6 separate regions of the Homo sapiens genome follow, and regions 1, 2, 3, 5 and 6 are each reported to be linked to region 4. The links are microRNA targets in miRTarBase. Many come from high-throughput screens and were not tested one by one. Region 4 holds a microRNA gene; each other region holds the end of a gene's coding sequence.
What was found. Region 4 holds the annotated microRNA hsa-miR-1237-5p (CGGGGGCGGGGCCGAAGCGCG, at 1,803-1,823, opposite strand). A microRNA usually pairs through its seed, bases 2 to 8, with sites in the 3' UTR of a target mRNA and lowers its output. Matches are read on the target gene's strand: a 7mer-m8 pairs with bases 2 to 8, a 7mer-A1 pairs with bases 2 to 7 and ends in A, and an 8mer does both.

Region 1: miRTarBase lists BARHL1 as a target of hsa-miR-1237-5p. Seed matches in the 3' UTR shown: 7mer-m8 at 1,049-1,055 and 7mer-A1 at 1,283-1,289.
Region 2: miRTarBase lists G6PC3 as a target of hsa-miR-1237-5p. Seed matches in the 3' UTR shown: 7mer-A1 at 4,286-4,292.
Region 3: miRTarBase lists SIGLEC12 as a target of hsa-miR-1237-5p. Seed matches in the 3' UTR shown: 7mer-m8 at 4,206-4,212.
Region 5: miRTarBase lists NCKAP5L as a target of hsa-miR-1237-5p. Seed matches in the 3' UTR shown: 7mer-A1 at 1,519-1,525 and 7mer-A1 at 1,526-1,532.
Region 6: the mRNA of TACC3 is a reported target of hsa-miR-1237-5p. Seed matches in the 3' UTR shown: 7mer-m8 at 766-772.

Annotation. Positions count from the first base shown.
Region 1 is chr9:132,588,884-132,593,952 of GRCh38, forward strand. It overlaps BARHL1 (BarH like homeobox 1), which reads left to right. Exons shown (of 3, transcript NM_020064.4): 3 at 345-1,369. The coding sequence ends at 639. It overlaps DDX31 (DEAD-box helicase 31), which reads right to left. Exons shown (of 20, transcript NM_022779.9): 20 at 4,114-5,069. Among named protein-coding and RNA genes, the nearest start is that of BARHL1, 8.8 kb to the left of the region's middle. RefSeq lists an enhancer at 3,551-4,052.
Region 2 is chr17:44,075,471-44,080,539 of GRCh38, reverse strand. G6PC3 (glucose-6-phosphatase catalytic subunit 3) reads right to left here. Exons shown (of 6, transcript NM_138387.4): 6 at 4,196-4,860. The coding sequence ends at 4,497. It overlaps HDAC5 (histone deacetylase 5), which reads left to right. Exons shown (of 27, transcript NM_005474.5): 22 at 42-139; 23 at 315-433; 24 at 1,263-1,396; 25 at 1,661-1,745; 26 at 1,875-2,040; 27 at 2,125-3,787. The coding sequence ends at 2,164. Among named protein-coding and RNA genes, the nearest start is that of G6PC3, 7.3 kb to the right of the region's middle. RefSeq lists enhancers at 2,975-3,514, 4,532-5,069.
Region 3 is chr19:51,487,236-51,492,304 of GRCh38, forward strand. It overlaps SIGLEC12 (sialic acid binding Ig like lectin 12), which reads right to left. Exons shown (of 8, transcript NM_053003.4): 8 at 3,992-4,594. The coding sequence ends at 4,406. It overlaps CEACAM18 (CEA cell adhesion molecule 18), which reads left to right. Exons shown (of 6, transcript NM_001405061.1): 6 at 3,352-4,066. The coding sequence ends at 3,417. Among named protein-coding and RNA genes, the nearest start is that of CEACAM18, 11 kb to the left of the region's middle. RefSeq lists silencers at 84-243, 1,487-1,667.
Region 4 is chr11:64,365,405-64,370,473 of GRCh38, reverse strand. It overlaps MIR1237 (microRNA 1237), which reads right to left and starts at 1,872; the gene lies at 1,771-1,872. It overlaps RPS6KA4 (ribosomal protein S6 kinase A4), which reads right to left. Exons shown (of 17, transcript NM_003942.3): 9 at 5,009-5,069; 10 at 2,214-2,342; 11 at 1,873-2,006; 12 at 1,677-1,770; 13 at 855-1,028; 14 at 581-775; 15 at 90-249. RefSeq lists an enhancer at 796-1,315.
Region 5 is chr12:49,787,722-49,792,781 of GRCh38, reverse strand. It overlaps NCKAP5L (NCK associated protein 5 like), which reads left to right. Exons shown (of 13, transcript NM_001037806.4): 11 at 1-104; 12 at 194-336; 13 at 731-1,630. The coding sequence ends at 943. Among named protein-coding and RNA genes, the nearest start is that of NCKAP5L, 38 kb to the left of the region's middle. RefSeq lists an enhancer at 1,193-2,035.
Region 6 is chr4:1,744,270-1,749,338 of GRCh38, forward strand. TACC3 (transforming acidic coiled-coil containing protein 3) reads left to right here. Exons shown (of 16, transcript NM_006342.3): 14 at 249-355; 15 at 443-563; 16 at 679-902. The coding sequence ends at 744. Among named protein-coding and RNA genes, the nearest start is that of TACC3, 25 kb to the left of the region's middle. RefSeq lists a silencer at 4,553-4,752.

The sequences.
Region 1 (5,069 bases), not on the chromosome of region 4:
AGGGTTCGTTCTGCGATCTCCTGGGCAGGGTAAGGCGCAGTTAGAGCCGGGCTTTGGGGTCAGACAGCAGGGCTTAAAACCCAGGCTCCTTTTTGAAAACCGGCCCAGACCTCAGTTTTCCTCTCTGTAAAGTGGGGTAAGAGCCACGGAAGGCCGGTGGAAGATAAAAGGAGAGGATGCACGTAAGGCGTGCGATGGTGCCTGGCACTCGGTTATTTATTAACAAATGAGTACGATCCCTCTTGGCCTCCCTACAGGCTCTCTGGGCCAAGCAGTGGGGAGGGGCTGGGGTCGCTGGATGCCCTAGCCCTGATCCCGCCATACGCGTTTATTTCGGCCCCCAGGACTAAATGGAAGCGACAGACGGCCGTCGGGTTGGAGCTGCTGGCGGAGGCAGGCAATTACTCAGCGCTCCAGCGGATGTTCCCGTCGCCTTATTTCTACCCGCAGAGTCTGGTTTCCAACCTGGACCCCGGCGCGGCGCTCTACCTGTACCGCGGCCCCAGCGCGCCGCCGCCTGCTCTCCAGAGACCTCTGGTGCCCCGCATCCTCATCCACGGACTCCAGGGCGCCAGCGAGCCGCCCCCGCCGCTGCCCCCCCTGGCCGGCGTCCTCCCACGCGCCGCGCAGCCTCGGTGAGGCGCCCGTCGGCTCCGGGGCCTCCTCCCGCGGGCTCGGCGTGGCCCCTTCCGCCCGCCTTTCTGAGGGCGCAGGTTCGACGCCCTTTCCCGGGAGGGGGCCCTGCCCGGCCCTCCCTGGCGCCCCAGCCCAGTGCCCCCCGAAGGGCCAAATGCCAAGTCCACTGAGGCCCGGACCCCGGACTGCGTCTCCCCAGCCCCCCTCGGCGTCCTCTCTCGCGGCCGCTCTGTCCGGGAGCCATCCCCACCCGCCGGGTGTACATACGCGTCTCTGCCACTCCCCACCCCCAGCCTCTGCCGGCTCCCCTAGGCAACCCCTTTCTCCCCAGGAGCGGGTGCGGCTGATTCCCAGGCTTCGCTCTCTCCCACGCCCCTTCTACGCTCCAGGTGGAGAACAGCCCCTCTCCCCGCGCCCCCGCCAGGGAGAGAAGGGGAGTGCGGAGCCCCGTCTCCCTACCCCTCGAGCACCTGGGCCAGCGGCTGAGCTGTACATACCGTGTGCAAAGTGTATATGAAGTTATTTATTCGTGACCCATGAGCCCGTGACCGTGTCCGTGGATTAGTGAGTCTGTGGCCTGTGCCCTCCCCACTCCCAGGCGGGGCAGGAAGGGGCCAAGGGGGCTTGCCCACCCACCCCGACCCCAGCCCCCAGCCTCAGCCCCGGTCCGGGGGCAGCCAGGCCTCTCGGGTTCTCTCTTTTTTAAATGTCGAAATAAACTTCTTACAAATGACCAGGCGCCTGTCCGCGCTCGCGTCGCTGGGTCCGCACTCAACCCCTCTCCCATCCCTCTCCTGGGGACTCGGTTTCCTTCCATCCTCAATAACGAAACATTTTTGTCCCCCTTCTCTTCCCCGGTGCTGTGGACATGCGCGGGGGCCCCGACGGGACTCGCTGGGGCCCGGGTCTCCCCTCCCTGGCCTCAGTCTTCCCATCTCTACAGCGAGGCCAGCTCGTTGTTCCCCTCCTCCTCCTCTGTCTCCATCTGGTTCCTAGCGGCTCCCAGACGGTCCCGAGGGCCGGGGCGGGGGTCCGTGCCGGAACAGGCGGGGGTCAGCGCGGGGCCTCGGTCGGCTGCGGGCCGGGCTGCGGGGCCCTCGCCGAGCCGACTCATCTGGCCGCGACAAGGGCCCCGGCAGCTGGTGACCGGCCCGCCGGGCGCGGGCCGACAGATGGGCTCCGAGGCTGCTCCCCCCATCACTCCCACCCTCCGCCCAGCGTCCGGCCGCGCTCGGGCTCCCGACGCTCGCGGGCGCCAAGGCGGCCCGGGCCTCCCGGCCTCCCGCACCAGGCAGGACTCCGCGCGCCTTCGCTGCGAACCAGACGCCACATCGGGTAAACCCCCACTCCCACATCTTCTCACCTCCCCTTTACCCCGGGAGGAGGTTGGAAATGAGACCCAGAGGGGAGCCAAATCCCAGCGTCTGCCCCATCTCTTCTGGCTGCCCCAGACCGCAGCTCTAGCATCTCAGGGGAGAGGGGTTTAAGTCCCGAGTCAGACTCGAGGCTTCCAGTTCACGTCCAAAGGGCCACGGTCACCTGAGACTGCTCCCTCTCTGGGGAGGTGGGCGCAGGTGCTCCCTTCCCACACACCACCTGCAGCTCGCTAACCCTCAGCGCTGGGAAGTTTTGGGGGCCGGCAAGCCGTGGCCCCTCTAGTTTGGGGGCAGGGTTTCTCTGAAGACGGGGGCTGTGTTCAGACTATAACCCCTCTCGAAAACCATACCCACAGCCAGGTCCGCTACTGTTTCCTCCCTGCCCCGAAACACCCTCGCACAGCAGCTTTCTTTCCTGGGATGGCGAGGGTATTATTCTAATTTTGCAAAATGCACAGCAGCTAATTAAGTCAAGGAGCCCCTCGGCTTTCGAGTTCTTTTGCATGTGAATGGGGGTTGGTAAATCCCCAGCTCTGGCTCTGGTGGGGGGTGAGGAGAGACTGTCCCCAACTCAGGGTTAATGAAGTGGGAAAGGAGTCTCTCATAGCCTCCTGCAAACAAAACCCCCCATGCAACAAACCCTGCCCAAATCCTACATGGATTGACTTAAACCCAGGGGATAAGTGCTTTAAATTAATCTCATTGAATAAGAATGAGACCAAACAAAACTCTTTAAAATCATATTAAAAATCTATCAAAGGACAACTTGCACTGGTGTGCTTTTCATTTTGTGAAAGTGAAGGAGATAGACCGTAGCAACCACCCTCACATTTACACAGTGGCAGCGCAAACCACAGACACATTCTCAACTATGTAATTGTCCTTGTACCTCAGAGGCGATTTCATATCCTACATTAATGAAGAACAAGGCTTCCCTACAAGTTTATAATTAGAATATTTTAAATTGTCCTGCACATCCCATCTGTAATAATAACTTCACAACCTTTGCAGTGAGGTGGGCTCCTGCCTTCCATCCACTTAGAAGGCTAAATTGGTTTCTGTTCCCAACCCTGAGGTTGGGCGAGCTCTCGTGTAAGAAAAAAAGAATGAATGTGGGACCCCAACAGGCCTGACAATAGGAGAGGGCTGAGAAGCCATCTTCCCCCGCTCTGCCACTGACCCATCCCCCCTCATAAACGCCGACTCAACAGGGAGGGGGCAACAAAGTTGAAAAGAAGTTTAGAGCTCCCTGCTGGCCCTCGGTCGCAAGGGAAATTGAGGACTGGGGCAAGTTGAGAACCTGAGCTGATTTTCAGGGTGCCCCACTCCCCCCACAGCGACAGGCCTGGCTCTGGATTCTTCCTAGTGTGGAGCAGATTAAGAGATAATGTCTAATGATCAAGGGGGAGGTTTAACAAGACCAGTTAAGAAGCCTTTTCAAGCAGGGCAACTTCTCCCGTGGAAAAGCCTCCAACTTGCGTCTCTACAAAGCAACGCCCGGATTTTAATGGCTTCCACTGACTGTGGCCTGAAGGGCTAAGCGGGGAGGCCCCTGGCAGTTTGGGAGATACCTGCTCCGAAAGGTCTCATTTACTCCCCTCTTCCCTAAAGTTCTCCTCCCTTCACCCCAGGGGGAAAAGAAAAAAATCAAAATAACCCACTGGGCTTCGTTAAAAAAAAAAAAAAAGTCCTTTACTGAGATTTGGTTGGTTCGTTGCTTCTCTAGAGTGCAAGGGGCTGTCTGCACATCAGCACGGACTTCATCTCTCAGCAAGGGGTCTCTGCCCTTCAGTGCGTGAGAATGAGGCCCGTCAACTGCTAAGGCTGTGGCAAACATGAGGATGTTTTGGTTTCCAAAAAAACATTCTACAAGCCCACTCGGGGGAAACGCTTTTAGGCTGCAACATTCTATTAAATGTCCAAATTCTGTGTGACTCTAAATATGGGAACCAGGCTTATGATATAGAGACATGAGTAAGTTTGGGAAATTTTAAAAAGAGGCATGATTAAACATACACAAAAATTAGAATATGTACAGTGGAATTAGGCTAAAGCTTTGCCTAATTGGTGCCTGAAATGTATAATCTGTCAAGAGCCATAATAGAAGAGAAAGAGATTTATTTTAAGGTTATTTAAATTTAAACAATATTAACCTTAAATCTGCTAAATCCATGTTTCTTTATTAACTGGGGTAATATAGTGATTCTACTTAGAAACAGACCCACATAGCATCTATGGCAAGAAACCCTCACCATAAGAGTTAGCAGATTAAGTGTGTAAGTTTTGATCTTGGAATTATCGTCACTCACACGTTGCATGATTCTAGCACTTCTCTTTCCCCCCAGGGATGCCGAACTCTGCCAATTCGCCCTTTAGTGGAATGAGTACTGGGGGAGAAAAAGTAAGGTTTCTCTTTGATCATCCCCAATCACTGGCATTAATCCTGTTTTTCACACAGCTGGGTTTTGTCTATAAAGTTTGATCCCTCCTTTTCTCATCCAAATCATGTGAACCATTACACATCGAAATAAAAGAAAGGTGGCAGACTTGCCCAACGCCAGGCTGACATGTGCTGCAGGGTTGTTGTTTTTTAATTATTATTGTTAGAAACGTCACCCACAGTCCCTGTTAATTTGTATGTGACAGCCAACTCTGAGAAGGTCCTATTTTTCCACCTGCAGAGGATCCAGTCTCACTAGGCTCCTCCTTGCCCTCACACTGGAGTCTCCGCCAGTGTGGGTGCCCACTGACATTCACCTGTGTCTAGAACGGAGGCAAGGATGCTGACCCCCCGTGGTCCCTGCAGGAAGGCCCACCTTGCCAACTCTCACCACCCTCTCGTGGCCACTCAGACCTTCCAAGGATCTGGGGGGATCTACTGAAGTGGTGCCTCAACACTGGTCCTGGGGAGACCACAGAGGGCGGCACAGTCACTGCAGAGGAGAAGGAAACTGAGAAGGCAAGACACAGTGGAGAGGACAGGAGCGGTGCCCACAGGTGTGGAGGCCTCCAACCCTTTCTCTTCTGGACCCCTCTGCAAGTGCCCAAATCTTACAT
Region 2 (5,069 bases), not on the chromosome of region 4:
CCAGGTGGTGAGAATAGCCCTCTCCCCAACTCTGGTGCCAGGTTGGTGGAGGACCAGGCGTGGGGTACAATGTGAACGTGGCATGGACAGGAGGTGTGGACCCCCCCATTGGAGACGTGGAGTACCTTACAGCCTTCAGGTAGGGACTGAAAAGGGCCATGGTAGTCAGTGGGAGCCCCTCTGGGCCCTGCAGTGGGAGGGGCAGAAGGCACTCAGTTCAGTGTGGGTAGAGGGGGTTGTCTCTGGGAGGATAACAGTGGGGCGAGGCCTGGCCTGGTCATCTGCCGGGCTCAGCTTGAGCCATCCCTTTGCAGGACAGTGGTGATGCCCATTGCCCACGAGTTCTCACCTGATGTGGTCCTAGTCTCCGCCGGGTTTGATGCTGTTGAAGGACATCTGTCTCCTCTGGGTGGCTACTCTGTCACCGCCAGATGTAAGCCTGCTGGGGGATTGAGGGAGGAAGTGAAACAGTGAGGATATCGAGTCCAGTGAGGCATGGGGCAGGGAACAGACTGATATTGCAGCAGACGGGGAAAGCAGGGGGCAGGGCCTAGACTTGGAATCATCTTGGTAACTCCCCCAACTTGTCCTCTGCCAACCCCGGCCTTGAGGGGATAGGAGGTGGCAGTGGGGTAGCAGAGGATAGAGGATGTATCCTGCCGGAGCTGTAGAGATGGGCTTGTTGGTCCCTGGTGTTTCAGTGATGCTCCTTGTCATTGGATTGGAGTCTTCAGCCAGTCTGTTAATGTTTTGACTGTGATAGGGCATTTAGTTCACTGATGCTGTATTTTATTATGGATATATTTGGGTTTATATCTCCCATCACATTTTGTGCTATTTGTCCCACCTCTTGTGTTTCTTTTTCTCTCCTTTTCTTTCTTTTTTTTTTTTTTTTTTTTTGAGGTGGAGTCTCACTCTGTCACCCAGGCTGGAGTGCAATGGCGTGATCTCGGCTCACTGCAACCTCCGCCTCCTGGGTTCATGCCATCCTCCTGCCTCAGCCTCCCAAGTAGCTGGGATTACAGGCGCGTGCCACCATGGCCGGCTAATTATTGTATTTTTAGTAGAGACGGGGTTTCACCATGTTGGTCAGGCTGGTCTCGAACTCCTGACCTTGTGATCTGCCCGCCTTGGCCTCCCAAAGTGCTGGGATTACAGGCGTGAGCCACCGCGCCTGGCCTTTTTTCTCTCCTCTTACTGGCTCTTGAATTGATTGATTACCTTTCGCCATTTCTTCTTCCTCCCTTCACCCATCCTCAAAGGTTTTGGCCACTTGACCAGGCAGCTGATGACCCTGGCAGGGGGCCGGGTGGTGCTGGCCCTGGAGGGAGGCCATGACTTGACCGCCATCTGTGATGCCTCTGAGGCTTGTGTCTCGGCTCTGCTCAGTGTAGAGGTAAGGGGTGGGAAGGAGCTGGGAGGTGGCAGGCCAGAGGTCTGAGGGGCCAGCAAGGGGTCAGCCAGCACTGGGAGCCCCTTAGGAAGCTTTTCCTTGGTCCTAAGGAACAGCTAATGGCCAGGCTTTCTGAGTATGCGTTTGTCCAAAAAGGCCATGTTTGCCCCTGTTGTGAGGGATATCTGGGGCTGAGTGGGGCAGTTAGAGGGGTATGCATGGCAACCCTACTCCCCACCCTAAGCCTTCTCTTCTTTCCCCTGCCAGCTGCAGCCCTTGGATGAGGCAGTCTTGCAGCAAAAGCCCAACATCAACGCAGTGGCCACGCTAGAGAAAGTCATCGAGATCCAGAGTGCGTGAGGACACGTAGAGGGGCTCAGGCTGCCAAGGGGGCACGGAGCTTGTGGGAGCACCAGGACTGGGACTGTTCATGTGGGTGTCCTCTGCCCTCCCTGACCCCTTGCCTGTCTCTCGTCCACAGGCAAACACTGGAGCTGTGTGCAGAAGTTCGCCGCTGGTCTGGGCCGGTCCCTGCGAGAGGCCCAAGCAGGTGAGACCGAGGAGGCCGAGACTGTGAGCGCCATGGCCTTGCTGTCGGTGGGGGCCGAGCAGGCCCAGGCTGCGGCAGCCCGGGAACACAGCCCCAGGTAAGCAGCAACCCGCACCACCTCTCTGCCCTCACCCCTGCTGGTGCGCCCCACTCAATACCCTCCCCTGTGCTTGCCCCACAGGCCGGCAGAGGAGCCCATGGAGCAGGAGCCTGCCCTGTGACGCCCCGGCCCCCATCCCTCTGGGCTTCACCATTGTGATTTTGTTTATTTTTTCTATTAAAAACAAAAAGTCACACATTCAACAAGGTGTGCCGTGTGGGTCTCTCAGCCTTGCCCCTCCTGCTCCTCTACGCTGCCTCAGGCCCCCAGCCCTGTGGCTTCCACCTCAGCTCTAGAAGCCTGCTCCCTCTGCAGGGGGTGGTGGTGTCTTCCCAGCCCTGTCCCATGTGTCCCTCCCCCCATTTTCCTGCATTCTGTCTGTCCTTTTCCTCCTTGGAGCCTGGGCCAGCTCAAGGTGGGCACGGGGGCCCAGACAGTACTCTCCAGTTCTGGGGCCCCCCGAGTGAGGAGGGAACGGGAAGTCGGTGCCTTGGTTTCAGCTGATTTGGGGGGAAATGCCTTAATTTCACTCTCCTCCCTTCTCCAGCCTCAGGGGAGGATCTGGAGGATCCACTACTGTCTTTAAGATGCAGAGTGGAGGGGAGGTGGGCACCCACCCTGCGATTCTCCACCCTTTCCCCTTCTTTCGTCCTCACCATCTCTGCAGACCCCTCTCCTCCTCCTTCCTCTTGGTCTCAGCACTGATGGGAGGCTGGTGCCCAAGCTGTGGCCTGCAGTCTGTGAGGAGGGCTGTCTTGCCTCACACTCCTCACAGCCTACTTCCCCTTCCCCGGGGCTGAGAGGGTGAAAGTGTGTGGGGAAGGAGAGGACTGGTTTCCTGGGTTCTCAGGGGCCAGGAGGAGTAACAGAACCAGGTCTGCTCCCCACCTTACTCGGATGGCCTCCCTGCCCCTCTGCTGGCACAGCCTGGGCAAGGGGAGAAGGTGGTCCCTGCAGAGGGGCTCCAGGCTGGTGAGAGCCCCCCTGCTGTCAGGACCAGATTTTCCCAGCCATCCAGCATGCTGCGGGGAGAAGGGGCAGAGGCTCACCTCCCTCCTGGGGCCTTTTGTTTTGGATCCTGGGGATGGTGAGAATGGAGGTTCTAGAAGGGGTAAGGCCAGAACCCAGGGATCCAGGAGTCGGCTCTCAGCTGGAGCTTCCATACCTTCTGGGCTCCCTTTGCTGACCACCAGCCCAAGGGAGCTAAGACCAGGAGGGGGCTGGGCGCTGTCCCTTCTCTTTCCCAGGAGCCCTGCCAGGGGCTGTGGGCCTACAAGGCTTCCAGGGGATGCCATCCAGCCTGTAGGAAACCAAAGATGGGAAGTGGCTCCTAGGGGGCTGACTCTTCCTTCCTCCTCCTCCCCAGTACCACATATACTTTCTCTCCTTCTATCTCCAGGGCCCCACCAATCTGTTTACATATTTATTATCCTATGGGGGCCTGAGCAGGATTGAGGGAGCCAGGGGAGGGGCAGGAGTCCCAGCACCATCGGTTCATAGTGTGCTTGTGTGTTTGTTTTAGATCCTCCTGGGGGATGGGGATGGGGCCAGGCTCAGTGTACTAGGCCTCTCTGTGCTGAGCCCCAGGCTCCCGGCCCCTTACCCACTCTCTCCCTGTGGCTGGTCTGGTTCTCATGTAAACCCACTCCTTGCTTTGTCTCCCTGGATATGGATTTCAGTTAAGTATTTTGTAACCCGTTACACTGTGTGTCCTTGTGTAAATAAACTTGTTTCTGGCAGTGCCTTCTGGGGCCAATGTCTCTATTCTCTGGGCTCCCAAATGGAGTAGAGGTTCTCATCCTCCTTCCTAGCCAAACACACTACTCTTTTCTCCAGCCCCTGGACTAGAAGCCGATTTAGGAAACTGGAGGTTGGGGCGCAAGATCTGTCCTGTAAGTGAAAAGACAGGGTTATACCGAATATAGTCACAGCATCTCATGGGACCTCTCATGTGGCCTAGGCAGTGATGAGGCAGGGGACCCAGGGCTGAGAGGTCTCACCTGAGTTTACAGCCCTCTCCTTTCCTGCCTCTCTGCCCCTGGAAACAGGGCTGGAGATGGCACAGAGACTACTGGAGCAGCCTGGCAAAGGTTCCACTTGTGCACACACAGGCAAGGCCCATGGAGATGTGCGCATAGGCAAGAAAGGAATCTCAAAGTATTCAAGGGCTTTATTGGGGCCGCCCTGGCTGCCCCTCACAGTGTTGCAAGAACCCGCTGGTCTTGCTGTTGCCTTTGCTCTTTGGGGGCTTGAGAGGAAAGGCAGAGGGAGGACCAACTTATCTGGGAGAGAGAAGGCCCATCTTTGGGGCTAAGACCAGGTGGTGCGGAAGCAGATTTAGGGAGGGGAGGGCCTACTTAGGGGCTGGAAGGGGATGGGGCTGCCTCCTGGAGTGTGGTGGTCACAGAGTGTTGGCTTTGTGGGAGGGAAAGGAAAGGGAGGCACACAAGAAGTCAGGAAGAGTGGATGGGCGGTGCTTCCTGGGCACTGAACATGTGCACTGCCCAGGGCACGAGGGCCAGGACTAGGCATGGCCAGAGGGTGTACTTGAGGAAATTGAAAATGTAGAAGAGGCTGATCTGAGGGGGGTGGCCCAGCCAGTCCAGGGGGCCCAGCAGCCCCATGGCCAGCACAAGGCAGGCTATCTTCTGGCCATTTCCCAGCTGTGCCCGACGCACCTGGGCATAGCAGGGAGAGTGCAAGGCAATGCCCAGGCCCAGGGCAGCCCCTGAGTCACGGCTCAGGGAGGCAAAGGGCCGGCTATCCACGTGTATCCACTCAGGCCGCTCACACCACTTGAAGGCTAGGCTGATGGACCTGTGGGGAAGAAGAGTTCTTGCCAGGAGAGGCTGGAACATAGAAGGCCACTGGCTCTTGGCCATCTGCCCTTGGGGCCCACTCCCATGTTCTGTTTTGTGCCTGTGAGGGTCTATGTGAATAGGTAATGTGTCCTTTTTTAGCTATAATGAACCAGAGACACACCAGGCTAGGTGCAGGCGAGATAGGACAGGGCCCAGCCTGCCCAG
Region 3 (5,069 bases), not on the chromosome of region 4:
AGGCTGAGGCAAGCAGATTACTTGAGCCCAGGAGTTCAAGACCAGCCTGGGCAACGTGGTGAAACCTCATCTCTACAAAAAATACAAAAGTTAGCCTGGAGTGGTGGAGTGCTTCTGGAGTTCCAGCTACTCAGGAGGCTGAGGTGGGAGGATCTCTTGAGCCCGAGAGGCAGAGGCTCAGTGAGCCGAGATCGTGCCACTGCACTCCAGCCTGGGCAACAGACACCCTGTATAAAAAATAAATAAATAGGCCAGGCACAGTGGCTGAAGCCTGTAATCCCAGCATGTTGGAAGGCCAAGGCGGGCGGATCATCAGGTCGGGAGTTCGAGACCAGCCTGGCCAACATAGTGAAATCCCGTCTCTACTAAAAATACAAAAAATTAGCCAAGTGTGATGGCAGTCACCTGTAATCCCAGTTACTTGGGAGGCTGAGGCAGGAGAATCACTTGAACCTGGGAGATTCAAGTGCAGTTCAAGTGCAGGTTGCAGTGAGTCGAGATCACACCATGGCACTCCAGCCTGGGCGACAGTGCGAGACTCCATCTCAAAAATAAATAAGTAAATAATCTGTGAAGAAAAGGCCTGTAACATGAATTAACCAATATGGTAGCCACTAGTCATACGTGACTAAGTTTAAAATGAATTAAAATTAAATAAGTAAAAAATCCAGCTCCTCAGTCACACCAGCTCATGGCTATGAGATTGGACGGTGCCAATATAGACCATTTCGTCATTGCCAAAAGTTCTACCGGACAGCACTGCTGTAAACCAATTATGTAGAATGTTCTTAAAGAGTAAAAACAAAACCAAACAAAACCAGAAAAAGTAGAAAGAGACAACCACTAGTCCCTCCTCTGTCCCTCACCCCAACCCCAGGAACTATGCTGCATGGGAAGAGAAGAGAGCTCGAGGTGGAAACAGAATTCTCATATTCAGGGAAGAGCAGAGAAAAGGGGATTGCAAAAGCAGATGGAGAGAGTGGCCATGACATAGTGGGGAGGGGCTCAGGTCAAGGGCAGAAACAGAATGATATGATGGTATTAATAACAATCTCTGAGATTTTATGATGTGCTTACTGTGTACCAACCCTTGTTCCAAGGTATTTACTAGTAAGAGCTTACTTTATCCCCATAGGAGATATCCCTGTGAGGTTGGGACCAGTATTAGTTCCATTTTACACATAGCAAGTAAAGCACAGACAGGCTGACTCCCTGCTATCTCACTGTATGGTCAATGTTGTAGGCTCCTTTGCTAAGGGACCATGTAATAATCATAAATAGGTTCAATATCTAAATACAAGACCTCGCCTGGGAGGTCAGCGAGGTCTTGGAAATGCAGGGTTGTTGGCTAGTCTTCAAGAGAGGTCTCAAGACAAAAGGTCTCAGAGAATTCAGCTGAGAAGGGGTGGGCCCCTGCCTTAGGGTGGGCTCCTCCCTGGGGGCAGGCCCCTCCTGGACCTGGAACCACATTCTTCACAAGGGCTGCAGAAGGTGCCAGAGTTTGGAGTGGGGCAGGGAACTCATGTGGACAGGGCTCCAGAATCCCTCCTCATTCCCCTAAGAGCAGGGCCATTTCTGTTTTACGGAATGGATTCCATCCAGGGGTGCATTTTTGCTTTTGTGGGCCCTCCTCTAGAAAAATATTAAAAATTATATTTTACGACTATCTTGATATAAACATGTATAAAATATAGGGTGGGTTGTATTCAGTTTTTTTCCTTCTGATTTTAGAAGAAATTGAAACATTTTTGTGATCCCTAAAAGTATAATGGGCCTTAGTGCTTCTGTCCATAATGATCCTGCTTCCACTCGAATTTCTTCAGACGAAAAGTTTCCAGGGGTTTCTATCCTTGTGTTCAAAGTCATTGATGGAGACTGAATGAGGGACAAATGAATGAGTCACTGAGGTTGACTTAATGTCAACCTCATCATCCAAAGTGAAATTTTGGATGATTAGGTTGACATTAAGTCAACCTCAGTGACTCATTCATTTGTCTCTCATTCAGTTTCTCGGTCCCCCCACATTTCACCAAGCTCCTGGCTTTATTCTTGGGCCTCTGATGAACAAAAGATGAACAAACTGCTTTCCCTGCCCCCAGTAATATCACAGCTACCACGATCCAGCCCCCTCTTTCAGCTCCCCTTCTCCCTCCCCAAAAGATCACCCTGGAGTTACTCATATTTTAATCATGATTGGATCTGGATACCACCCAAAAGGCACAGGAGTGGCATTTCCTAGAATAAATGGTGGGGCAAGAGGGAGCTGAGGAGACACACAGCATACGTGTATGCGTTTTCACTATGTTATCTAAAGATTTTAGAAGATACATCTTCAATTATCTTAATATTTAGATATTGAGCCTATTTATGATTATTATATGGTCCCTTCACCAAGGAGCCTACAATGTCGACCATACAGTGAGATAGCAGGCAATCGGCCTGACTGTGCTTTACTTGCCATGTGTAAAATGGAACTAACACTGGTCCAAACCTCACAGGGATATCTCCTATGGGGATAAAGTAAGCTCTTAGTAGTAATTACCTTGGAAGAAGGGTTGGTACACAGTAAGCACTTCATAAAATCTCAGATATTATTATTAATGCCATCATATTATTCAATGTGCAATTCTAAACTGATTGTGATAAACTCAAGAAAGTTCAAGGGTATTTCAAAGAGTGTATCTGAATCACCTCATCTTCCACCACCTGGAAGAACCCCCCTGGCCTGGCAGAACCACCTCCACGCCACTGTCCCATTCCTTTCAAAGGCGCCATGTTCTCTATGGTCTGGGGCCTCCCCTCCGATATGAGAGCAGGGATCTGGAATCAGAGAAGCCAGTTTGGGAATATTGGCCTCTGTTATGTTCTGGCTGTGTGACCTGGGGCAAGTAACATCACCTCTCTGGACCCTCATTTCTTCATCTGCAAATGGGTTAAAGTATCTGTCTTGCTTGGCTGTTGGGAGGGTTAAAGATAACCCTGTCATAAGTTATAGTGCCTGGCATATAATTGGTATGAAGTAAATTACTGTTATTACCTCCATCATTGTTGTGATCCCTCATAATTAGGCCAACAGTGCCCACTCCTTCCTCAGCTTCACCCGGCCTCTTTCTCCCCACACAGTGGCATCTTCCTCCAGTGCCCTCGGAAATCTTTAAAAGTATGGAGATGTTGAGGACTCTCGGTGCAGAGGTGCAGCCCTCAGACCATCTCCTCCATTGGGTCCCATGTGAGGAAGACTTAGGCTTGGACTTGGTGGGAAGTCGGGCCCCTTCACCTCTCTCTATCCAGGACTCTCCCATGTTTCTTAGGGACCTGAGATGTGGCTTCTTCCCTGATTTCTCCCCATAGGACAAATCGGGCTCCATGAGTGTCCACCCCAGACCTGAGGACAAGACCAGAAGGGCAAGCAGGTGAGGAGAGGGTGATGGAGAAGGGCTGGGGGTCCCCATAGGGCCAGCGAGGCTGAAAAGGGTCCAGGGTCTCTTTGGAGGGTACTGGCAAGAGAGGGACCCAGCCCAGTCACACGGAAGCCTGGAGATGGAGGCTCCAGTAGGAGGTCTGCAGACCCCACCCGGGACCTGAAGATGATGTCGTGGGTAGCGTGGCCATTGGGCGCTTCATCTGCCAATCAGAGCTGGTCAATGGGTTGCAGGTCGGGGCGGGCCATGCGCAAAGCTGGGCTCTAATTCCAAGCGCCTCCTCCCTCAGCTCCGGCGCTTCCAGCTTCTCAGATTTCTTCACCCATGGAATCAACAGCGATGCTGTAAACTTATGGCCAAGGGGTGCCAATCAGTGGTTGTTCCACTCAGTGCCGAATGAGAGAAGAGACCTTAGAATCAGGCAGGGATTAAATTTCAGTCCTGCCCTGAGTACCGGAGCGACCTGAACGCAGCCCCAGTGAGGCTCCCTCACCTGGATGCACCGTGGAACCATCGTCAGCATGATTAGCACATCCGTCAGCTCAAATATTTAATTTTTTTTTTTTTTTGGTGACAACATTTAAACTCCTCTCTTTTAGCCATTTTGAAATATTCAATACATTATTCTGTTATTTGGAACAACACGGATGAACCTAGAGAACATTATGTTGAGTGAAATAAGCCAGGTACAGAGAGACAAACACTCTACGATCTCACTATATTTGGAACCTAAAATAGTCGACCTCAGAGAAGTAGAGAAGAGAATGGTGGGTACCAGAGGCCGGGGGCGGGGAGTGTGGACCGATTGGATGGAGAAAGGGAGAGTTTGGTCATCAGGCACGCATTTTCAGTTTGACAAGAGGAATAAGTTCTGATGTCCTGTTGCACAGCATGGAGGGCTGTTAATTCTAAAGGAATCAGTCTCGGGCTTCTTTGCTGCAGGGGTCGTGAGCCCTCAAACAGGCCTGAGTCTCTGCAGTTTCTCACTTGGGGATGTTGATCTCGGAGTACTCATAGCCGATGGCCTCCTGTTCCTGTGGGTACTGAGGCCTCGCTTTGTGGAAGCTGAGGGATGCATACTGGATCTCTCCTTCCTCTGGGGAGGGGGTGGCCAGGGCTGGCGGAGCATGGTGTGGGGGGCTGTCATCTGCCGGGGATTCAATCAGGGGTCCCTGAATGGAGGAAGAGAAGGGAGTCAGTGCAGAGCAGTGGGGCCAGCATGCACCAGAGAGCATCCAGGAAGGAGGCCCAGGAGTTCCTTCCTCCATTCATCCCATGTGCACTTTGCTGAAATCTCTTTAATACGTTCCTCTAATGTCTAATACTCAATTATCACCTTATGTGGTGTTTACTAATCTCATTAACTTCCAACAACAATTCCATAGTAAGATATTATTATTGTCTCCATTTTATAAATTTGAAAACTGAGGTAGAAATGGTTAAGTACCCTGCGCAAACTCCCTCTTATACCGGGACCCAATCCAGTCAGTTCCTTCTGACCCCAAAGCCTGGAGTCCTGCTGAGGCCTCCTGTGTGTGAGTTCCTGGGCTGGGTGCTGGATGGACTGTGGTGGACACGGTAGGCATGGGCTCTGACCCCCTGCATCTCACTCTTTAACTGAAGGAGGTGGCAATAAATGACTGCCAA
Region 4 (5,069 bases):
CCATCCCCAACCAGGACACCTGGCCCAGTGACCATCCCTGTCCCAGCGTCCCCCTCCCCAACCATGGTCTATGACCTCCAGCTCCGCACCTCGGACCAGCTCCTTGGCTTCCTCGGATACACCCTGCCAGGCCTCCCCGTCAAGGGAGAAGCGCCCCTCGCGGATTTTGCACATGATCTCGGCCGCCTGGCTCTGCCCGCCCTGGCCAGAGGCCCCCTGGAAGGGGACCTGCCCCGACAGCATCATGTACTAGGAGGGTGAGGGGAAGGTGAGGCCGGCCCAGGCTGGGGTGCCGAGGCTGACCCCTCCGCTCCCACAGAACCACTCACCCTCCCCACTAGGGGCACTCCTGAGACCCACGCGTGGTGAACCCTGACTTCTAACCCCCAATACCCGGATGCTCCGACTCTAGCACCAGAGCGACCCCACCTCTGTATTTGAACCACCCCGATCCCAGCTTCGGACGAAACCCAGCCGCCCCCACCAAGATGACCCCTGTCCCCTCCCTCGTGCTGCTGCACATCAGGAAGACGCCAGGTCCGAGCGACCCTGACCCCGCCTCAAGGACCGCGTCCCATACCAGAATGACGCCCAGGCTCCAGAGGTCGCAGGACTCGTCGTAGCCCTGCTGCGCCAGCAGCTCGGGGGCAGCGTACTGCAGCGTGAAGCAGGGCGTCTGCATGGGCACCCCGGGACTCTGCGGCCGCAACCGCGCGAACCCGAAGTCGATGATTTTCACCGGGGCCCCGGGCGTGTCGTCGGCGTACAGGATGTTCTGCGAGGGCGGCGGGGTAGTGGTCAGAGGCAGCCCCCGGCGCCACCGCTCCGCCCCGCCGCCGAGGCAGCTCGCCCACCTCCGGCTTGAGGTCGCGGTGCACCACGCCCGCCTCCTCGTGCATGAAGCTCACGGCCGACACGAGGCTGCGCAGGATCTGGCTTGCTTCCGACTCGCTGAAGTGCCGCTTCTTGCGGATGTGCTCCAGCAGCTCCCCGCCCCGCAGCAGCTCCAGGACCAGGTACGTGTGCAGCTGCGGGCGGCGTGGCGGGCCAAGGTCAACACCCACCCACGGCGGCAAGCCCCCTCCCACCACCCAGGCCCCGCCCCCGGCCTTCGGGCCCTGCCAATGTTCGAGAACCCCCTCCTCAAAGTCCTTTTTCTTTCTTTCTTTCTTTGTTACTTTTTTGGAGACAGTCTCGCTTTGTCGCCCAGGCTGGAATGCAGTGGCACCACCTCGGCTCACTGCAACCTCTGCCTTCCGGGTTCAAGCGATTCTCGTGCCTCAGCCTCCCAAGTAGCTGGGATTACAGGCGCACGCCACCGCGTCCGGCTAATTTTTGTATTTTTCGTAGAGACGGGGTTTCGCCATGTTCCCAGGCTGGTCTCGAACTCCCGACTTCAAGTGATCCGCCCACCTCGACCTCCCAAAGTGCTGGGATCACAGGCGTGAGCCATCGCGCCCGGCCAAAGTCCCTTTTCTTGTCCATCCTCAGCTCCGCCTTCCCGTCCTCAGGCCCTACTCCCCTCAAATTCCACTCCCTGCGCCTCCCTGGTCCCTTTGGGCCCCGAATCAAACGCTAGGCCCCGCCCAATTCACCCCTAGATCCCGCCCATAGTGCCCCCAAGCCCCGCCGCCTGCCCCTTTTCTCTCCGCCCTCCCCTGGCCGGAAGCCATCACCTGGTCGTGATGCACCTCGTGCAGATTCACCACGTTGGGGTGTGACTGGCACAGGCGCAGGGCAGCCACTTCGCGCTGCGTGTTCGCCTCCAGCCTGGGGGACGGAGCAGAAGGAGTTACGGTCGCCGCGCTTCGGCCCCGCCCCCGGGACAGCGCTCTGCCACCCCCACCCCTGCCCGCGCCTGGGCCCTCCCACCTGCGACTGAGGATCTTGACTGCGAACTCCTGGCCGCTCTGGCGCTGGCGGCAGCGGCGACACACAGAAAAGCTGCCCTGGCCCAGCGCAGGCTCCCGCAGGTCCAGCTCGTACTGCTGGAAGAAGGGCGAGTCCTGGAGGCGAAGGCGAAGGCGAAGGCGAAGGCGGCGCGTCAGAGGTCCCACCTGGTAGCCCCGCGGCCCCGCCACGCCCCATGTCGGAGAGGCTTAGGACCTTGCTGAGCTCACGCTGCGGGCGCCAGTTGGATCTAGGCCTAGAGTCCCCGGGCCTAGGCCTCTCCTAAAACCAATTTCCCCCCAACCCAGCCCAGCCCAGCCCACCTGCATCATAGCGCTCCTGGCCACCGCTGCCCGACCTGGCCGGTCTCCAGCACCAGGCGCTTCCAGCCCATCGGTCATCACCGCGTTGTTGTGGTCAAAGAGAATGGAGGGTGCCACAAAGGAGTATCCCTGCAGGGCGGGAGTCCGGGGAATGGGCATGGGCATGGGGGTTGGGGGTGCGGGTGAGGAGACTCTGGTGGGGAACCAGGCAAAGGCAAGACCCTGGACAAGGGGGCAGTGGGGGGTGTTCCAGTTGCATTCTGGTACACACAGGATGTGTGGACACTTTTTATTCCACCTGGTTTTATAATCACTTGGGGCCATGTCTGTCCCCACCAGCCTGTGACCCCAACTTTCTCATCAGAGTGACCACTTATTCCTCCCCAGGTGCCAAGGGCTGAAGGCACTGAAAGGACCAATGAATATATTGAAAGTGTGGCCTGAGTTCACGCTTAGCTTATGAGAATCCAACTCTATCCGCTGAGGAAAAAAAACTTATTCCTCCCTTTCAAGCCGGACTTTGGCTTCTTCTGCAAGGGGAGCTACTGAAGAAATGCAAAAAGAAGGCAGAGTTAATTCTTTGCTTTTCCTAAAGATCCATGTCCTGGCAATTTGAGGAGCTTTTAAGGGTCATTTTAATTGCGTGTTGTGGCCAGGCACGGTGGCTTGCGCCTGTAATCCCAGTACTTTGGGAGGCTGAGGCAGGTAGATCACCTGAGGTCAGGAGTTTGAGACCAGCCTGACCAACATGGAGAAACCCCATCTCTACTAATAATACAAAAATTAGCCAGGCGTGGTGGCACATGCCTGTAATCCCAGCTACTCGGGAGGCTGAGGCACGAGAATCGCTTGAACCCGGGAGGCAGAGGTTGCGGTGAGCCGATATCATGCCATTGCACTCTAGCCTGGGCAACAAGAGCGAAACTGCGTCTCAAAAAAAAAAATTAATTATCTGGGAGTGGTGGCACTTGCCTGTAGTCCTAGCTATTGGGCAGGCTGAGGTGGGAGGATCACTCAAGCCCAGGAGTTCAAGATTGCAGTGAGCCATGGTTGCCCAACTGCACTCCAGCCTGGGCCACAGAACAAGATCCTGTCTCTAAAACATTAATTAATTAATTTTAAAAAATAATTTTAAAAATAAACTATGTGTCATCTTCTCCTAAAAATGTAGTACCCAGATCCGTACCTGGAATATTTTAGGCACTCACTACACATTTTTGAATCATTAAATGAATGAATGAAAGTACCTACCAATTCAAGAGAAAGAACTTTATCATGAGGGCTGTGAGACAATGGAATGGAATGTGGACATTCAAGCACAGAGTTGTCAATTCTAAGAGCTTCAGAGAAGGGACTTATCCAGCCATACTTGGTCTGTCTATTAAACAAACCATACTGGTTTATTTAGTGATAATGATATAATATCATTATGGCAACATGATAAACTGCACAGAAGGAGATGCTGTCCACAGAGGACTGCAGCACAAAGAAAGGGTGACCCCCTGGGCCAGGTGAGCAGACAAGGAGGCCTAAAAGAGGGGTAGAAGCTTGCCATGTAGACTGCTGTAGAGAATGTACTCCAGGTAGCAGGAGCAGCAAGTGCAAAGGCACAGAGGTATATTCTGGAACCTCTGAGCAGTTCGATCATGCCCTCCAGAGCATCAAGTAGGAAAATGATGAGAACTGAGGCTAAGGTTCTAAGCAAGGACCACATCATGAAGGGCCTCAATGCCCAAGCAAAGGGAGTTTGGACTTGTCCAAAAGGTGTAAGCTTCTAAAATTCAGTAGAGGGGGCTTGGCATGGTGGCTCATGCCTCTAATCCCAGCACTTTGGGAGGCCGAGGTGGGCGGACCACAAGGTCAAGAGATTGAGACCATCCAGGCCAACATGGTGAAACCCCATCTCTACTGAAAATACAAAAATTAGCTGGGTGTGGTGGCGCACGCCTGTAGTCCCAACTACTCAGGAGGCTAAGGCAGGAGAATTGCTTGAACCCGTGAGGCAGAGATTTCAGTGAGCCAAGATCTAGCCACTGCACTCCAGCCTGGAGACAGAGTGAGACTCCGTCTCAAAAAAAAAAAAAAAAAAAATTCGGTGGAGGGGACCTGACCCTCCAGGAGTGTACCATGCTATGCCAAGGGCATGCAAAGCCACAATATCAACATGCATCTCCTCCTAGGTGTCCACGTGAGAAAGTGAAGATCTCTTTTTTTTTTTTTTTGAGACGGAGTTTCACTCAGTCGCCCAACCTGGAATGCAATGGTGTGATCTCTGCTCACCGCAACCTCCGCCTCCCAGGTTCAAGGGATTCTCTCACCTCAGCCTCCCGAGTAGCTGGGATTACAGGCGCATACCACCACATCCAGCTAATTTTTGTATTTTTAGTAGAGACGGGGTTTCCCCATGTTGGCCAGGCTGGTCTCGAACTCCTGACCTCAAGTGATCCACCTGCCTCAGCCTCCCAAAGTGCTGGGATTACAGGTGTGAGCCACCACACCCAGCCGCAAGTGAATAATTTCAAACAATATTTTTACATAACAATAAAGAGATGATGGAATAGAAGGGAAATTAACAGAAGGTTTAAAGATAAACCATGAACTATCAAACACACATCCTGCCTGGGTGGTCTCTGTGACTGACAACCCTAGGTCCCACTGAAGTGGCGACGTCTAGGGGAGACGCTGAGTCCCAATCAGGACACAAGGCCTAGGCAGTGTCCTCGGGCCAGCCAGGGCTGAGGCAGACAGCAACATCTCATCTCTCCTGCATCTGGGTTCCATGAGTTTCCCCTCACCTGAAAGATTCGGGGGTCCCCAGGTGGGGGGCTGCCAGGGGGTGAGTAGACAGGCTCCAGC
Region 5 (5,060 bases), not on the chromosome of region 4:
CATAGAGGAGCTGCTGGTGAGTGGGCGGCACCCCAGCATGCCAGCCTTCCCTGCACTGCTACCCGCTGCTCCGGGCCACCGGGGCCATGAGACCTGTCCTGATGGTGAGTGTCCAGGTGGGAGGGTGGGATGCCCCTGGGCATCCTGGAGCTGCCCAGGCAGCTCCATCCACCTTCCCTTTGTTCCTGGACAGATCCCTGTGAAGACCCAGGCCCCACCCCTCCTGTCCAGCTGGCCAAGAACTGGACCTTCCCCAATACTAGGGCAGCCGGCAGCTCCTCGGACCCTCTCATGTGCCCACCCCGACAACTGGAGGGGCTGCCCAGGACCCCCATGGTGAGAATTGCAGCAGAGGAAAGGGAAAGGACTCGGGAGCAGGAGGGAGTGATGTGGGGAGACCAGTTTCTCCAGTAAGGTACGGCCTGTGTGTCGCACAGTCTCAGTGCTGCACCCTCTGGGAGGAGGACCCCTGGGATGCCCTGTGAGCGGCCCTCCCCACTGCCCTCCTTGCACTTCTCTCGTGGGGAAAGGTTTCTGTCCCTCCCCAGAACCTTGTAGGACTGTTCTCAGTTGTACCTCCAGCCTGTTTCCTCTGAAGTATACCCCACCTTGGGCCCCCTCTGGAGCAGCCCCCCATCAGGTGCACAGACGCCCCTCAGAGCTCAGTGCCTCTGAGGCTGGGCCGAAAGGTGGAGAGGAGCTTCCTCCCGAGCTGCCCCTCCTTTCCCAGGCCCTGCCCGTGGACCGGAAGCGAAGCCAGGAGCCCAGCCGCCCGTCCCCTACGCCCCAGGGCCCACCTTTCGGGGGTAGCCGCACCCCCAGCACTTCGGACATGGCCGAGGAAGGCAGAGTGGCCAGCGGGGGCCCCCCAGGGCTGGAGACCTCGGAGTCTCTCAGTGACTCACTCTACGACTCGCTGTCCTCTTGTGGGAGTCAGGGCTGAGGGGCTGCGCCACGCCACGGCCCCGCTGGAGCTGGGGACCACAGACTGGACCGGCTCTCTTCATGCCCAGCCCCCGGAGACGGGGACCCCTCCCTGAAGGGACCAAGGAGGCAGGTGGATAAGAAGGTGAAAAGGGGGTCCCTGGCACACCCCACCACCCACTGCTTCGGCGGATGAGATGACCGTGCTCAGCTCAGGGAGAGACCCCGCCCTTGGTCCCTTCTCTCACCCAGAGTAAGGCTCTTCCTGGAAGGGACTGGGGGTTAAAGGCCACTGTGTCGCAGCCCTCCAGTCCCTACTTCAGGCTGAGCCATCTTGTGGTGCTGGGCTTCCTGCCCACCAGCCGTGCCATCTCTGCCCAACCCGGCTGCTCCTCTGCCCCGAAGCCCTCGCGAGGCCCTCCTGGAGGCCCCCGTGCTGGTGGAGTTTGGGGGCCAGGGGGACAAGTTGCCTTCTCTCTCTGCCCTGGTCCTCCCTGCTGTCTGGATGGTGCTGCCCTCCTCTGCCCCATGCCTTTGGGGTCTGTTCGTCCGTCTTTTTTGTTGTTGTTTTTATATATTGAAGCGCCTGGCCCAGCCCCCAGCCCCCAGCCCCGCACTGCGGTTAATTTATGTGTTGTTTAAAATGCGGCTGCTCTGCTTCCTGCCTCTGCTTCTGCCGTATCCCTAATAAAATGTGGAGGCCCCCTCCCTGCCCCTGAGTCGGCTTGTTGTGTGGGAGGACTCAGGCAGGCCAGGTCGGGGGACACTGCATGGGTGCCAGGTTGAGGGACCCCAGGCCCCCTTGTGACACAGCCCCCTCACCAGGGCAACTGGCTGGAGTCATCCCAGAAGGTAACTGAGGGTTGGGAGAGTAGGGCCTGCTTAGGCCCGGAAGGGTATCTGGGCTCGGAGAGATTCTCCTGGGCCAGGGCTTGGGCACGGCGCGAGGCTGGGTGGCCCCTTGGAGAGGGAGCTGGGGAAGATGGCTGTGGACATGCACTCAGGCCCCACGTGTCCCAGGCTGGGGGGGACATGCAGACTCTGAGTAGAGTTGCATCTCTTCTCCAGACCTTGGTTTTCCTCCTCTATAGAAGATTAGAAAGTTAATCCAGACGAGCTGGTCCCATCAGCCAGACTTTCTTCTCAGCATTCTCCTCTTCCTACCCCTTCCCCAATTCTCTTCCTACCCCTTCTTAGTTAATATCATCATTGAAGAAATTAACAAGACGGAGAGTGTCAAGTCAGATGTCTGGGTTTTTTTTTTTTTTTTTAAGTCAGTATCCCATTTTCTTACCTCTTGTCTTCTACTTCCAGATTCCTATCCCACTGTCCTATCTTTTCTGCTTTTATGGGCTTAAGCATAATATTACCAAGCTGTAAATCTGCTTCTTGCCAGGTGGGCTTCAAGAGGTCTACCTCCTTCCCACTTTTTATTTCTTGGTTTTTCAAGCCCTCTTCTCTGCTTGAACTTGGTAGATTACCTCATTTCCTAGTTAGAACAGAATTGTTTGCCTGCAGGATATTTCTCCTATTTCCTTCTGGGGAAGGAGTTTGGCATAGTAGGTTTGATGCAGGACTCCACCTCTTTCAAGCTGAGACCAGAGGGTCCATCCGCATTCTTACCACCAGGGTCTGATCCATCTGCCTAGGCTTTATTCTCTGGTGTTTGCAAATACAAGGCGTCACCTTGGTTTCCAGGGCAATGTGGGCTGACTGACCAAGGCAGGGCAGGTGGCATCAGTCACACCTGACGCCTGGAGGCAGCCATTGCCTACCAACTGTTCCATGGTGGGAAACTTCCTAAATCCCCCAGCATTCTGCTAAGAGACCCTGGATCCAGATGAGCCACCCCACAGCCTACATAATTGTGTGCCCTTCACACAGACCCAGTATTTTATCTAAAATGATTCTGTGGAGGAGGACATGCAGTTGAGTTTAAAGACACTCCTGGGGAATCAATTTCTTGCACTTCAAAGAAAGGTTAGGCTAAAAGACCATTTGATCCTTACTAAGGCAGAACACTTCATATCTCAGTTTGCAACATCTTCCTGCAGAATTCAGGTAAATTCACTGTTTTCTCCAAGAATAATAGGTGAATGTTTGCCTTTGCAATGTGCAAGACCCATTCTGCTGGATTTTCCAAACAAAGGAAGACAAAACTGCCAGGCCACCTCCCCCATCCCCCAAAATGGCATCAAGGCATCAGCAAAAGATTATGACAAGGCTTCAGGTTCAACTTCACTGGGCACTTTGCCTTTTGCAGGAAATGTCCCAAAAACATTAACTCAAGTTTTCTCTGGGTAGCCAGTGGGTTTTTTTTTCCTTCTTTACCCTTTTGTAGATTTCTACAAATAGTGTGCTTTGTTTTCTTTAAAAAAAAAATTTTTTTTTGTAGAGATGGGGTCTCACTATGTTGCCCAGGCTGGTCTCAAACTCCTGGCCTCTCCAAGTTCTGGGATTACAGGTGTGAGCCACTGCATCCAACCTGTTTTGTTTTCTTTATCAAAAAAAGTTTTAAGGCCGGGTGCAGTGGCTCACGCCTGTAATCCCAGCACTTTGGGAGGCTGAGGTGGGTGGATCACGAGGTCAGGAGATCTATACCATCCTGGTTAACACAGTGAAACCCTGTCTCTACTAAAAATACAAAAAACTAGCCAGGCGTGGTGGCACGCGCCTGTAGTCCCAGTTACTCCAGAGGCTGAGGCAGAAGAATTGCTTGAACCCAGGAGGCGGGCCTTGCAGTGAGCCAAGATCGCGCCACTGCACTCCAGCCTGGGCGACAGAGTGAGACTCCGTCTCAAAAAAAAAAAAGTTAAAAAAAATTTTTTCCCGAGACTATAGAAATGCTCACCTGTATTAACTTCAAATTCATGTGGCCTTAAGTAATTTATTTATATGCTTGAACTAACTCACACAGGATTACAGAATGAGGGTATATATCTAGAGTTTGCTGCAGAGAATAATTGTTTCTCGTTTAAAACTTTTTTTTTTATTTTTTTGAGACGGAGTCTCTCTCTGTCACCCAGGCAGGACTACAGGCTCCTGCCACCACACCCGGCTAATTTTTTGTATTTTTAGCAGAGGTGGAGTTTCACCATCTTAGCCAGAATGGTCTCAATCTCCTGACCTCGTGATCTGCCCACCTCGGCCTCCCAAAGTGCTGGGATTACAGGTGTGAACCACCGTGTCTGGCCCCTTAAAAGGTTTTTAATTGTTAAAGGAATAGAAATTATAGAAGTATATGTTCCCCAGGCACAATGGCTCATGCATGTAATCCCAGCACTTTAGGAGGCCGAGGCGGGTGGATCACCTGAGGTCAGGAGTTCGAAACCAGCCTGACCAACATGGAGAAACCCCATCTCTACTAAAAAATACAAAATTAGCCAGGCGTGATGGCACATGCCTGGAATCCCAGCTATTCGGGAGGCTGAAGCAGGAGAATCACTTGAACTTGGGAGGCGGAGGTTGCAGTGAGCCAAGATTGCACCATTGCCCTCCAGACTGGGCAACAAAAGCAAAACTCTGTCTCAAAAAAAAAAAAAAGAGTATATGTTCATGGTTTTTAAAAAAAGGAATTGAAATTGAATGTTATAACTAATTATCAGGGAAATGCAAATCAAAACTGCAATGAAATACCACCTCACTCTAGTTAGAATAGCTCTTATCAAAAAGACAAAAGAAAACAAGTGTTGGTGAGGATGTAGAGAAAATAGAACCCTTACACACTGTTGGTGGGAATGTAAATTAGTACCTCTATTAAGGAAAACTGTGGAGGTTCCTCAAAAAATTAAAAGTAGAGCACTATATGATCCAGCAATCCCACCAGTGGGTAAATGGAGGTATCTGTACTCCCTTGTTTATTGCAGCACTGTTCACAATAGCCAAGAATTGAAGTCAACCTAAATGCCAGCAATGGATGAATGGATAAAATGTGGTATATCTACACAGTGGAATACTATTCAGCAATGAAAAAGAATGATATCCTGTCATTTGAAACAAATTATTTGAACCTGAACATTATGTTAAGTGAAATAAGTCAGACACAAAAAGACAAATACCACATGTTCTCACTGATACGTGGAATCTTAAAAAAAAGAAAAAGAAAAAGCCGATCTTATGGAAGTATAGAGCAGATC
Region 6 (5,069 bases), not on the chromosome of region 4:
GCCCAGCCGTGAGGGCACCAGGTTCAGGCCCGGCATCTCAGGGTGGAGAGCCAGGGCTGTCCTGAACCTCCAGAGGGGGTGAGCTGGGAACTTGTGTGAAGGGGCTTTTTCCAAAAGGAAAACGGGAGCTACTGGCTCACGGCTGATGCCCCAGACAGCCTCGAGGATCTGCAGGTCCCCAGACACCAAGCCTGGGTGCTCTCCAGCAGACGGCGTGGTACCCACAGCTAATGCCTGCCCCTTCCTAGAACGAAGAGTCACTGAAGAAGTGCGTGGAGGATTACCTGGCAAGGATCACCCAGGAGGGCCAGAGGTACCAAGCCCTGAAGGCCCACGCGGAGGAGAAGCTGCAGCTGTGAGTGCTGGGCGAGGCCCCACCCTGGAGGGAGAATCTGAGCACCTGGGCCCCAGCTCAGCCTCTGCCCCGCCCCTACCCCTCCAGGGCAAACGAGGAGATCGCCCAGGTCCGGAGCAAGGCCCAGGCGGAAGCGTTGGCCCTCCAGGCCAGCCTGAGGAAGGAGCAGATGCGCATCCAGTCGCTGGAGAAGACAGTGGAGCAGAAGGTGGGTGCGGGAAGCCCAGCTCAAGGGGCCGTCTGGCAGCACCTTCTAGAAGGCCCTTGGGCCTGCTGCTCCCTCCAAGCAGGGAGAAGCCCCGCAACTCATCTTCCTCCTCCAGACTAAAGAGAACGAGGAGCTGACCAGGATCTGCGACGACCTCATCTCCAAGATGGAGAAGATCTGACCTCCACGGAGCCGCTGTCCCCGCCCCCCTGCTCCCGTCTGTCTGTCCTGTCTGATTCTCTTAGGTGTCATGTTCTTTTTTCTGTCTTGTCTTCAACTTTTTTAAAAACTAGATTGCTTTGAAAACATGACTCAATAAAAGTTTCCTTTCAATTTAAACACTGAAGCCGCTCTGGTCTTGATGAAGCAAAGGTTTCCCAGCTCTAGCCTGAGGCTGAGCCGACCCGCAGGTGCCCTCCCTTCCCCTCAGAGCTGGCCACTTGGTCCCTGCCTACCCCAGGCTCAGGCCACCCTGCCGAGGGGCAGGGACAGCCAGTGGATAGAGGAGGCTCAGGCCTGCCCAGTCTGCCCCGGCCACCTCGGGTTGGCTACATGGTCCTGGCCTCAGGTACACACATCAAAGTCCAAATGGACTCGTTTTTTTGTTTGTTTTTTTGTTTTTTGTTTTTTTTGAGACAGTCTCTCACCCACGCTGGAGTGCAGTGGCGTGAACTCGGCTCACTGTAAGCTCCGCCTCCCAGGTTCACGCCATTCTCCTGCTTCAGCCTCCCGAGTAGCTGGAACTACAGGCGCCCGCCACCACGCCCGGCTAATTTTTTGTATTTTTAGTAGAGACGGGGAAGTTTTCATATAAAACAAAAACTGTGAACAGCCAGGCATGCATGCCGGTGGCTCTGATTCTGGTGCCGACCTGGCGAGCCTGCAGCCCCAGCTAATTGAGCGCTCACCTGGGTGTGGGTGTGGAGGGAGGCCCCCTGCAGGTGCAGCTGCTCAGCTCCTGTCGTCCTCGTCCTTGGGGGCGTGGAGACTTCAGAGCAAAACAGGCTTCCCTGAGGAAGTTCTGTCTCCACACGGCAGGGCTTCCTCCCCGACCCTAACCCCATCTCCAGCAGTCCCGTCCTGCGGATCTCAAACTCAGACAGGCACACTGGAACCCAAGGCAGTTCCAGGAGCCCTTCTGGTCAGGCAGAGGCTTGGCCCAGCTGGGGCATCCCGGGAACCTGGGTACCGAGCTGAGAGATGCTGGTCACTGGGTTCAGCCATGGCACCTAGGACCCCAGCACCAGCCAGAGGGCCAGGGCCTCCTGAGGGGCCAGGCAAGACCAAGGGTTGACGCTGTAACCTGTTTCCAGGGGTCGGTGCTGCTGCTGTGCCCAGATCACGCCGTCCAGAAAAGCCGTTTTCTCCCATCAGTGAAGAGTGGGGCTCCCCACATAGGGAGGGACCCAGGCCGAGATCTGGCCGCAGTCACCTGGCCCCAGTAGTGTCTGAGCCTGGGGGTTGCAGTCCCAGGACCTGCTTCCAAGGCTCTGCGAGTCTGCCCCTTGGCCTGGTGAGCAGCACTGCAGTACTGACCTCGGGTGGGCGCAACAACACCCCCAGCCGCCGCCAGGGGTCGCTTGCCGCCATGGGCCATGCAGGGACCGGACCAGGTGGGTGACACCCTGAAGGGGCGGGGCACGGGTGCCAAGAAGCCGCATGGACCGCCAGGGAGGCTGAGGGGCGGGCAGGGGCTTCAGCCTGGGTGGCCAGTGGGGTGTCCCCAAGGGCATGAGGGTGCATTTGTTCTTAGCACGTTTGGAGGAGGGGGCCTGGCACAGGGATGGACGGCCACAGCGGGCCATGGCCAGTCACGGCTGGGGCAGGGACTGGGCCAGCCTCAGGGGGGCCTGGGGGCCACTCCCTCCCCCTCCACAGCCCACCTGTGCTCCTGCGGCACCTCCTGACTGGCTTCCCAGGACCATCGCGCCCCTCCCTCCCGTGGGCAGCAACCCCCATCTCAGCCCCGAGCCTGGGTAACAATAGGGTGTAATCCCTGGCTGAGGGGCCTCTGAGAGCCTTCCGTGGCCCACTTCACAGACGAGAAACCGAGGCCCACAGACCAGTGGCCATTGGCCGGGGGAGACGGGCCAAGCACAGGGTGTGGGCCCCCTCTCCTGCTTGGGGTTGAGGATATGGGGGAGAAGAAGGGCCCTCGAGCCTCCAGAGCTCACCAGCTGCCCTATGGGCAGCACGGCCCGCCTCGGCCTCCCCGCTGCCCACAGGCATGTCCGGCCGCAGGACTCCCACCTCTCTTTGCCGGGTCAGCTCTGCTCTGACAAGGTCTCAGGACACAAGGCGGCTGCCAGGTCCTCCTCCTCACTCAGCCCTGCCGGTCTGGCCTTCTGGCTCCTCTGACAGCTGCCCAGGGCCCTGTCCCCTGCTGGGGCCTCTCTGAGCCAAGCCGGGAGCCTGCCCGGAGAAGGCCGTGCAGGGCGGCTGAACGTGTCAGGGCACCTGGCCGGGCCTGGGGCCGCGCCGAGGACACCGGCCACCAGGCAGCGTCCTGGGCCGGGAGCCTCTCTCCCAGGACAAAGGGGCCTTGTGTGGCTGAATGGGTGTTTATCCTGGAGCCTGAGTTAACTCAGGGCTGCGAGGCCGGGCGGGGGCCCTGGCACTGGCCTGCCTGGTAAACATGACCTGAGCTGGGCACGCAGCCGTGGCCTGGACTTCCGCAGCCCCGGACCCCCTGCACATCCACGCAGTCGCCTTGTGGGGGGCTCAAGGAAACAGGAGCTGTCCTGGGGGCTGCCTCCGTGGGAGTCCTCATACACAGTCATGGAGGCAGCGCTCGGCTCTGCCCTTCCCACAGCTCAGGGCAGGGCTCAGAAACACCCCCCCGACGTGCCCCATTGGAAGGAGGGGTGAGGGTTAGACGAGGTCGTGAGGGTGAGGCCCTGGTCTGCTGGGATTAGTGTCCTTGCGGGAAGGCAGCAGGCCGGGAGAGCACTTTGGAGGAACTGACCCGCCAGCACCCTGATGGCGGACTTGGCGCCTCCAGAACCCAGAGAAACACGTGTCTGTGGTGCAAGCCATCTGGTCCCAGGCAGGATGAGACCCCGCCGTCCGAGGGGCTGTCCAGCCTGGTGCCCACCCACTGCCCAGCTCCCCCTGCAGCCAATATCCAAATCCCGAGGGGAGTGCAGGGCTCAGCCCACATGGAGAAGCTAGGTCTGTGGGGCACCCCCACCCCTCTAAGGCCACCTAGGAGTGGAACCTGCAGCTGCCTCCCTGGGCTGGTCAAGACCCTTTCAACAGGGCCGGTGGGGCTGCCCCTCCAAGCTCACTCCCATGCCCCCATGCTCTCTCCAGGGGCCGCCAGCCACCAGGCTGGATGGAAGAGGGGGTGGGGGCGAGGGAGATAGGCCAGGACAAGCTGACCACAGCCCGAGCGTTCCCTGCCAGGCACCCCTCTGCAGCCCCCACCCTGCCCTACCCAGCCTGAGCCCCGGGAGAGAGTTCACCCAGCCTGCAGGCAGACCCAGATCACCCTCCCATGGACTCAGGAGCTGTCCCCAGCCCAGGCTGAACCCCAGACCCCTTTCGGTCCCCAAGGTCCATGCCAGTGAGGGTCGCTGCAAGCCCACGTGGTTGCCGGAGGTCCCTCCTCCAGCCCATCACTCCACTTTCTGGGAAGGACCCCCGGAGGCCTGGGGACTAAGCCCCGGCGCCGCGCCGGACTGCCCTGGTGGGCTGAGCGCACATCCCTTGTCTCTCTTAGGGAGCTCTGTGAGGGGCAGGACCGGGCCAGCAGCCGCTCAGGAAGCTGGAGCACGTGAGGGAAAAGCCCTGTCCCCACAGGGCTGAGGCTGGACGAGGTCCAAGGAGGGGCTTCTGCCCGAGCCCAGGCCTTCCTTGGGGTGTGCTCCAGTAGCAGGTGCGCGTGCCACCTGTGCCGTGGGTTGGAGGGGTGGAACGTGTACGTCCTGGCTGCCCCCGAGCTCTGGGGACCCCGAACTCCTGGGGCTTCTGCCTGAGCCTTTGGACCCCAACAGCCTGCAGGGGGCGCCATTGGGCCACCGGAGCCCCTTCTGCAGACCCGGCGCGACCGCACTCCTGCCAGGCTGTTCCTACCGCCTGGCCACAGGCCTCCAGGAGGGGCCCCCACCCTGGGGCGACGAGGAGCCACCTGGGCCCGCACCAGGCCTCCCCACAGGGCCTCCCCACCTGCCCCCTCCCCACTGCTCTCCCTCCCCACCGCTCTCCCTCCCCACCGCACCCCCTCCCCACCACGCCCCCTCCCCACCGTGCCCCCTCCCCACCCAACGTGCCCCCTCCCCATCACGCCCCCTCCCCACCTGTCCCCCCACCACGACCCCTCCCCACCTGTTCCCTCCCCCTGCCCCCTCCCCACCACGAACCCTCCCCACCTGTCCCCTCCTCACCTGTCCCCTCCCCACCTCCCCCCTCCCCACTGCGCCCCCTCCCCAATGCACCCCCTCCCCAACACGCCCCCTCCCCACTGCCCCCCCTCCCCAAGGCACCCCCTCCCCAACACGCCCCCTC